Homo sapiens: one gene and its partner. The protein of the gene in region 1 purifies or fractionates together with the protein of each later gene. This does not show direct contact. Each region holds a gene or a part of one and is shown on either strand. Other genes may lie near its edges.

Region 1 (3,500 bases):
TAAGAATTGTTTGCTTTACTGCCTGTTTTACTTCAGTCCAAGACTTATTTTTTGTAAATAGCTTTTCTGCATATGTATACATACACACACACACACACACACACACACACACATATGCATGTATATACACACGTTGTAGGGAAGTTGTTTCCTGGTTCAGCTAGCAATTTCAATTCTCTGTTTAACGTCAGAAGTTGTTTTGTAGAATGGGATGTTAATATTTTTTTCTACACTGATTAAAATCATCCTTTGCCACTAAAGTCAAGTATCTGCTAGGACAGAAATGTGCAAATAGCATGCGTAAATGTGCATTTTTAGTGACTGTTGTTAGCTTGACAGTTTTATTTTCAAGATCCTCTTCTCTCCCGACCTAATTAATTATGATGTGTTTATAAGGCAACAATAATATATTTAGTTAGTTTGCAAAATGAGAACAATTTTTCTGGTTTTTCCATTTTTGCATGTTTTGAGTTTGGATTAATTGGACTTGTATTATTCTCAGTAGACATATATAATAAAATAGTCCATTTAACTGTGATTCTTTCTCTTGGAACATTGGCTGACTTTTAGATAGTGAGCCTTGTGCAGTTTCATAAATACAGGTACTACTGAGTTTTGGATGACATTCTTTACACAACCTAAAAGTAAAGGTGAGCATAATAGAAGCTGGAAACAAGCTGCTGGGCATAATAGAAGCTGGTAACAAGTCTGACGTTTTCTTTGCACTAGGAAATGTATTTCTTATTCCAAGTAATATGCCCTTGTTAGGTTCAGGATCTTTTTCAGTGGTTATAACTGCTTAAACATTTTTTTTTCTGTTTAAAGTAATTCATGTTATACTGTGGCAAATTTTGAAAAAAATGTTAAGTGTAAAGAATAAATTGAAAACATCCATGATCCTATCATCCAGAAAAAATTACTACTGATACTTTAATATACATTTTTCCAGTTTATTCCTTGCATGTACGGATTTTTTATTTATTTTTTTTACGAAACTTAGAATTATAACTTTATATATACTGTTTTGATCATACTTTTTTTTCCTGAATGGGATGTTGGTCTCCTAGTTTGAGACTTTAAAGTTGATTCTTTATAATATTACTGTTTTAAATAACACTGGGACAGACATTTTTTGTACATGTATCTTTGATTGCATCTCTGTTTTTTTTTTCTTCCTGTAGGATAGATTCCCAGAAGTGGGATAACTGGATCAGAGGGTGATTACCCTGTGTATAAGAGTATGTGTCTCACTGCACCTTCAATGGCATTGAGTAGGTCAGTTTTTACAATCTTTGCCAATGTGATAGATATCTGTTACATTCTTGGGTGGTAATAGCAGAAATCCTCATATTATTAATAATCTGTAAAACCATCATAGTGTATGAAAGAAATTTGCAATTGTCCTGAAATGAGTTTCTTTAAAAATATTTTAGGTAAAAGTAATCTGTGACCAAAAAAAAAATTACTGATTAAAGTTGGAATTTCAGCATTTTTTTTTTTGGAGAGCTAGAATTTTAATGTTCTTTTATTAAAATGACAAACATGAGAAAGCTTGTTTTATAGTATGTAATAAATATAAATATTATGTAAAACTAAATTATTTCAGATAGATGAGGGGGGTAGTCACATGGTTCTGACTTTGAAAAAACAAAAAAAAAATCTGTGAATGTTTAGAGCAGTAGCTCTGGAGTTGGGCAGCCTGGGTTTGTGTCCTTGCTTTGCCACTTACTAAGTACATGATTGGAGGCAACCTGCTAAATATGTGTATGATTTGATTTTTCTGAACCTTGGCTTCCTTATTTTTATAAAAGGAGAATAATATCTACCCCATAGGATTGTTGAGAGGATTAGAATAATGTGTAAGACCACTTGGCACATAGGTATTTAATAAAAACTAGCTATTTTCGTTAAATTTGTTTTTTCTGCCAGTCTCCTCAAGGGCAAGAAATATCTCATTTTTGTGTTTCTGTTTACATGAATAAATACTGAAATGCAAATGGGCTGTGGTGAGCAGTGGCAGCAGGAGGGGAATGGTGGACATTCTTTGTGGTAGGAATGGCATGTGCCAAGATAGAAAGAAAGTTCAGGAGAAGTTGGAGGACAGGTGATTAATTTGACAGAAGCCTAGGCTTTTGTATAGTTAGAAAATATGGAGATAAGGGAGAATTATGGAGATTGGGGCTAGACTTTTAAGCCATTGAATGCTACGTTGATAAGTGTAGACTTTTTCAGGAGTACAAGCTTTGGTATGTGGAAAATGACTTGATAAAAGCATTCATCGAAAAGCAGATGAATTCGCTTGTAGAGTAAAGAATGAATTGAGGAAGGAAGAGGTTGAAGACAGGGAATCTGGATTAATAGTAACACAGGTAAGGTAAGATCTGAGGGTTTAAAGGAAAACAAAAGGGAGGGTTTTGGAGGAAGTGCTTAGGCTTCATGTTTGTGAAGATCTGTACAACCAATTTGGAGATCAAATTCAAAAGAAACAGCCTAGGCTTACATGCAGTTAGGCAGCCTTTGAGAGAAGATGGGACTCAGTACACTTTGGTTGTTACTATTGTTTTTTTAAAAATTGAAGGATAAAACATTCCAAGATTCCTATCATTTCGTCAGTAAAAAGCATATATTTATGCTTTTAAAAATATATATGTACAATCTCCTGCAGTAATTTTATTTAGTTAGCATTTTGAGTTCTTGGTTAACAGGATATCCTCGCTTTTAGACTTTGTATTTCTGGAGCTATTACCTTAAAACTCTTCACTGTAAGGTGAAATTCTTCTGCATGTGGTTTTTGTAGCATTTGTGATTGCTGCAGGACTTTAAAAAAACCAGTCGTGTGAGCAGAGGTGATGAGAAGTGAAATACAGACTTCTTGTTTGTTAAGCAGCTTCTAAGTAAAATATAGGAGCAAAAAAATGGGAAATTGTGTGTATGATGTTTAGAAAAACATTACTTTTAGTGTTCCTGTTTTCTCTCTCAGCCCTGAATTTTCCTAATTAAAAAAAGAGAGTTTGCAGATGCCATTTTTAGTCATTCTAGAACCTGACTAGAGCTCTACTCATACTTTCCACTTGACTGAATAATATAAAGCAAGTTAGCCAGAGATTGATATTAATAGTATTTCTTTTTGACTGATAAGTAAACTCACATGAACTGTGAATTGTCTGCTCGGTATCTTCCAATGGAGAAAAGAAGCAACCACCAATTTAAAAAAATACAGGCTTGTGATACTTATAAGGTGTTTGCATTTTTTAAAACAGTGAGTTATCATACCTTTCTTAATGTTTCTTTTAGTTTCCAAATACTGCCTAAATTCAGAAATAAAGTACTTATTATTTTTATTCAAATCTCTTCCCTTTAAAACTATCCTTGAAAATATTTTTAAATTAATAAGCAAATGTAACTCACAGTGCTCGTAGTGTTGGGGATTGTGTGCGTGTGACTTTTTTTTACAAATACTGTGTTTTTCCTGTGTGAATCTGCAAAAGCCCAGATCTGGT
Region 2 (3,500 bases), on another chromosome or scaffold:
ACAGTCTTGGCTCACTGCAACCTCTGCTTCTTGGGTTCAAGCAATTCTTAGTGCCTCAGCCTCCTAAGTAGTTGGGACTATAGGCATGCGCCACCATGCCCAGCTAAGTTTTGTATTTTTAGTAGAGACGGGATTTCACCATGTTGGCCAGGCTGGTCTCAAACTCCTGGCCTCAAGTGATCTGTCCGCCTCAGCCTCCCCACGTGCTGGGATTACAGGCGTGAGTCACTGCATCTGGTCAGAATAGATCTACTTTTTAATGATCAAAAAAAAAAAAAAAAAAAAGCACTGGGTGCAGCGGCTCATGCCTGTAATCCTAGCACTTTGGGAGGCCAAGGCAAGCGGATCACCTGAGGTCAGAAGTTCAAGACCAGCCTGACTAACATGGAGAAACCCTGTCTCTACTAAAGATACAAAAATTAGCCAGGTGTGGTGGCGGGCGCCTGTAGTCCCAGCTACTCAGGAGGCTGAGGCAGGAGAATCGCTTGAACCCAGGAGGCGGAGATTGCGGTGAGCTGAGATCCTACCTTTGCACTTCACCCTGGGCTACAAAAGTGAAAGTACGTCTAAAAAAAAAAGAAAAGCAAGCATCACTCACCTTTAACATACTGGTCCCATTGTTTTCTGTAATCTGAGTCCATATAGATGTCTGCCAGTAGAGTTGGTGAGCAGTCCTCCAGAACACCAAAGACTTTATACTCATAAAGTCCAGTCTTCTATAAAAACAGAACAGGTAGAAATGTCTATTGGTTCCCAAGTTGAGAGAAAGCTGCATTCCACATAATTAAACTAAAGAGCTTCTGCACAGCAAAAGAAACTACCATCAGAGTGAACAGGCAACCTACAAAATGGGAGAAAATTTTCACAACCTACTCATCTGACAAAGGGCTAATATCCAGAATCTACAATGAACTCCAACAAATTTACAAGAAAAAAACAAACAACCCCATCAAAAAGTGGGTGAAGGACAAGAACAGATACTTCTCAAAAGAAGACATTTATGCAGCCAAAAAACACATGAAAAAATGCTCACCATCACTGGCCATCAGAGAAATGCAAATCAAAACCACAATGAGATACCATCTCACACCAGTTAGAATGGCAATCATTAAAAAGTCAGGAAAAAACAGGTGCTGGAGAGGATGTGGAGAAATAAGAATACTTTTACACTGTTGGTGGGATTGTAAACTAGTTCAACCATTGTGGAAGTCAGTGTGGCGATTCCTCAGGGATCTAGAACTAGAAATACCATTTGACCCAGCCATCCCATTACTGGGTATATACCCAAAGGACTATAAATCATGCTGCTATAAAGACACATGCACACATATGTTTACTGCGGCTCTATTCACAATAGCAAAGACTTGGAACCAACCCAAATGTCCAACAATGATAGACTGGATTAAGAAAATGTGACACATATACACCATGGAATACTATGCAGCCATAAAAAATGACGAGTTCATGTCCTTTGTAGGGACATGGATGAAATTGGAAATCATCATTCTCAGTAAACTATCACAAGAACAAAAAACCAAACACCACATATTCTCACTCATAGGTGGGAATTGAACAATGAGAACACATGGACACAGGAAGGGGAACATTACACTCTGGGGACTGTTGTGGGGTGGGGGGAGGGGGGAGGGATAGCATTAGGAGATATATCTAATGCTAAATGACGAGTTAATGGGTGCAGCACACCAGCATGGCACATGTATACATATGTAACTAACCTGCACATTGTGCACATGTACCCTAAAACTTAAAGTATAATAAAAAAAAAAAAAAAGAAAAGCAGCTGATGACGACGTTCATGCCACACCAAACACTGACCTCCTCTGTGGTCTTGGTGACACAATGATAAAAAAGCAGGTGCAGGCCCTGCTCTCAGAGATCTTAAATTCAGGTAGGCAGCAGTGCTAGAGATAGCTATAAGTGCCATCTAGGTAATTTAAATAGGGTAAGAAGAGTTGTGTGATAAATGATGCCTTGCAAGGGCGGGGATGGGGAGGACATCTATGTAATCAGGTGATCAGGAAAGGCCTCTATGAGAGTTAACATTTATCAGAGCATCTTGTTCCAAATGTTGGAAGAAGCCAGCCATAGGAAGATAGGAAAAGCCCGTTCCTGGTAGAAGGAAGGTCCTCAGATTGGTGGGCTGGCATCTTTAAAGAACCTGGGGTCTGGAGAACTCTGGATAAAAGAGAGAGTGGCAGGAGCTGAGGTTAGAGAGTTTGTCAGGGCTGGACCCCAAGGACTTTGTAAACCAGGGTAAGAGGTAAAGATTTTATTCTCATTGCTATGGAAAACTAATGGATGGCTTTAAACAGAGGGATGACCAGATCTGATTCGTAATTCAGTTTAAGAATGACGCAATCAAATTAATTTTTTAAAGGTGATTCTTGCTGCTTGGTAGAAAATAGATCATCAGAGAACAAGGAGATGGGTGAGAAGACCAGTGCAATAGTTCAGATAAGAAATGATGGTGATTTGAACAGGGAAGTAACAACAGTGATGGCGAGGAGTCAGTGATTTAAGGATATATTTTGGAGGTAAAGTAAAAAGGAATTCCTGATAGATCCTGGGGAAAGGGAAAGCAAAGAATCAAGGATAACTTTCATAACCCAAGTTGGGCAGATGGGAATGCCATCTTCTAAGACAGAAAAAAAACTTGGAGAAGAGGTGATTGGTGGGCTTTTGGGGTAATTAAGAGTTCTCTTTTGAACAAGTTGAGTTTAAGATGTTTATTAAGCATCCAAGTAAGGGTGTCACATAGGCAGCTACAGTTCTCGAGAGAGGTTATATTTTAAATAGCCATGTGGCATAGTGAAACCCAACACATTGTTTTATCAATTCCAAGACAGAATTTTTCAACAACTGCTTCTTTTTGATTCTGTATAAAAGACTGAAAATGAAAAACAAAAGAAATCTGCTTCAAATCATATAAGTTCCTTTGATTTGGGAAAAGGCCTTTCTAGATTCCAAAGTACAAGAGAGTTCCCTTGTTTCCTTGGTAAGCCATATTCTTGTCCATGAGGGTCCTGGCCTAGAGTTGCCCCATCACACATTTCACTCTCTGTACGGTGGCAATTTACAATTCCTGACCCTCAGCTTTGCCTAAAGGCTCTATTATTAAAATTAAAGCAATGGCTATTAGATTAATTTCAACACAAAGGCAAAGAAACAAATGAACGAACATAAACTTTTGGATGAACTCTTGCATCCATGTGCTAAGGCCGTGTTACTGGTTAATCATGCATGAATGAAGCCCTCTCTGTAAACACTGTGCCATGGCCTGAGGGGAAGTCAAGGAATAAACATGCTGAATCTTTCTAGAGATCCTGAAGCTTTAAGGGTCTTCTAGCTTGGGTGGTATAACCTAGGGATAAATACATCCCGGTTTAGGAATCTCAGATGTATGTGAAAGTACCTGGCAAAAAATGAATGTAAAATTGAAAATGAATCCATAAGAATCTTCCAGCTCTAAAAGCATGTGA

Evidence for each region.
Region 2: the proteins of RAP1A (region 1) and PCTP fractionate together in Homo sapiens (co-fractionation; one large-scale study listed by BioGRID). This does not show direct contact.

The regions. Positions count from the first base shown.
Region 1 is NC_000001.11:111,626,289-111,629,788, forward strand, and holds part of RAP1A (ras-related protein Rap-1A precursor), read left to right. Parts: intron 1-1,181; exon of another isoform or gene 1,182-1,275; intron 1,276-3,500. UniProt on the Homo sapiens protein: Counteracts the mitogenic function of Ras, at least partly because it can interact with Ras GAPs and RAF in a competitive manner. Together with ITGB1BP1, regulates KRIT1 localization to microtubules and membranes.
Region 2 is NC_000017.11:55,764,551-55,768,050, reverse strand, and holds part of PCTP (phosphatidylcholine transfer protein), read right to left. Parts: intron 717-3,500; coding exon 599-716; intron 1-598. UniProt on the Homo sapiens protein: Catalyzes the transfer of phosphatidylcholine between membranes. Binds a single lipid molecule.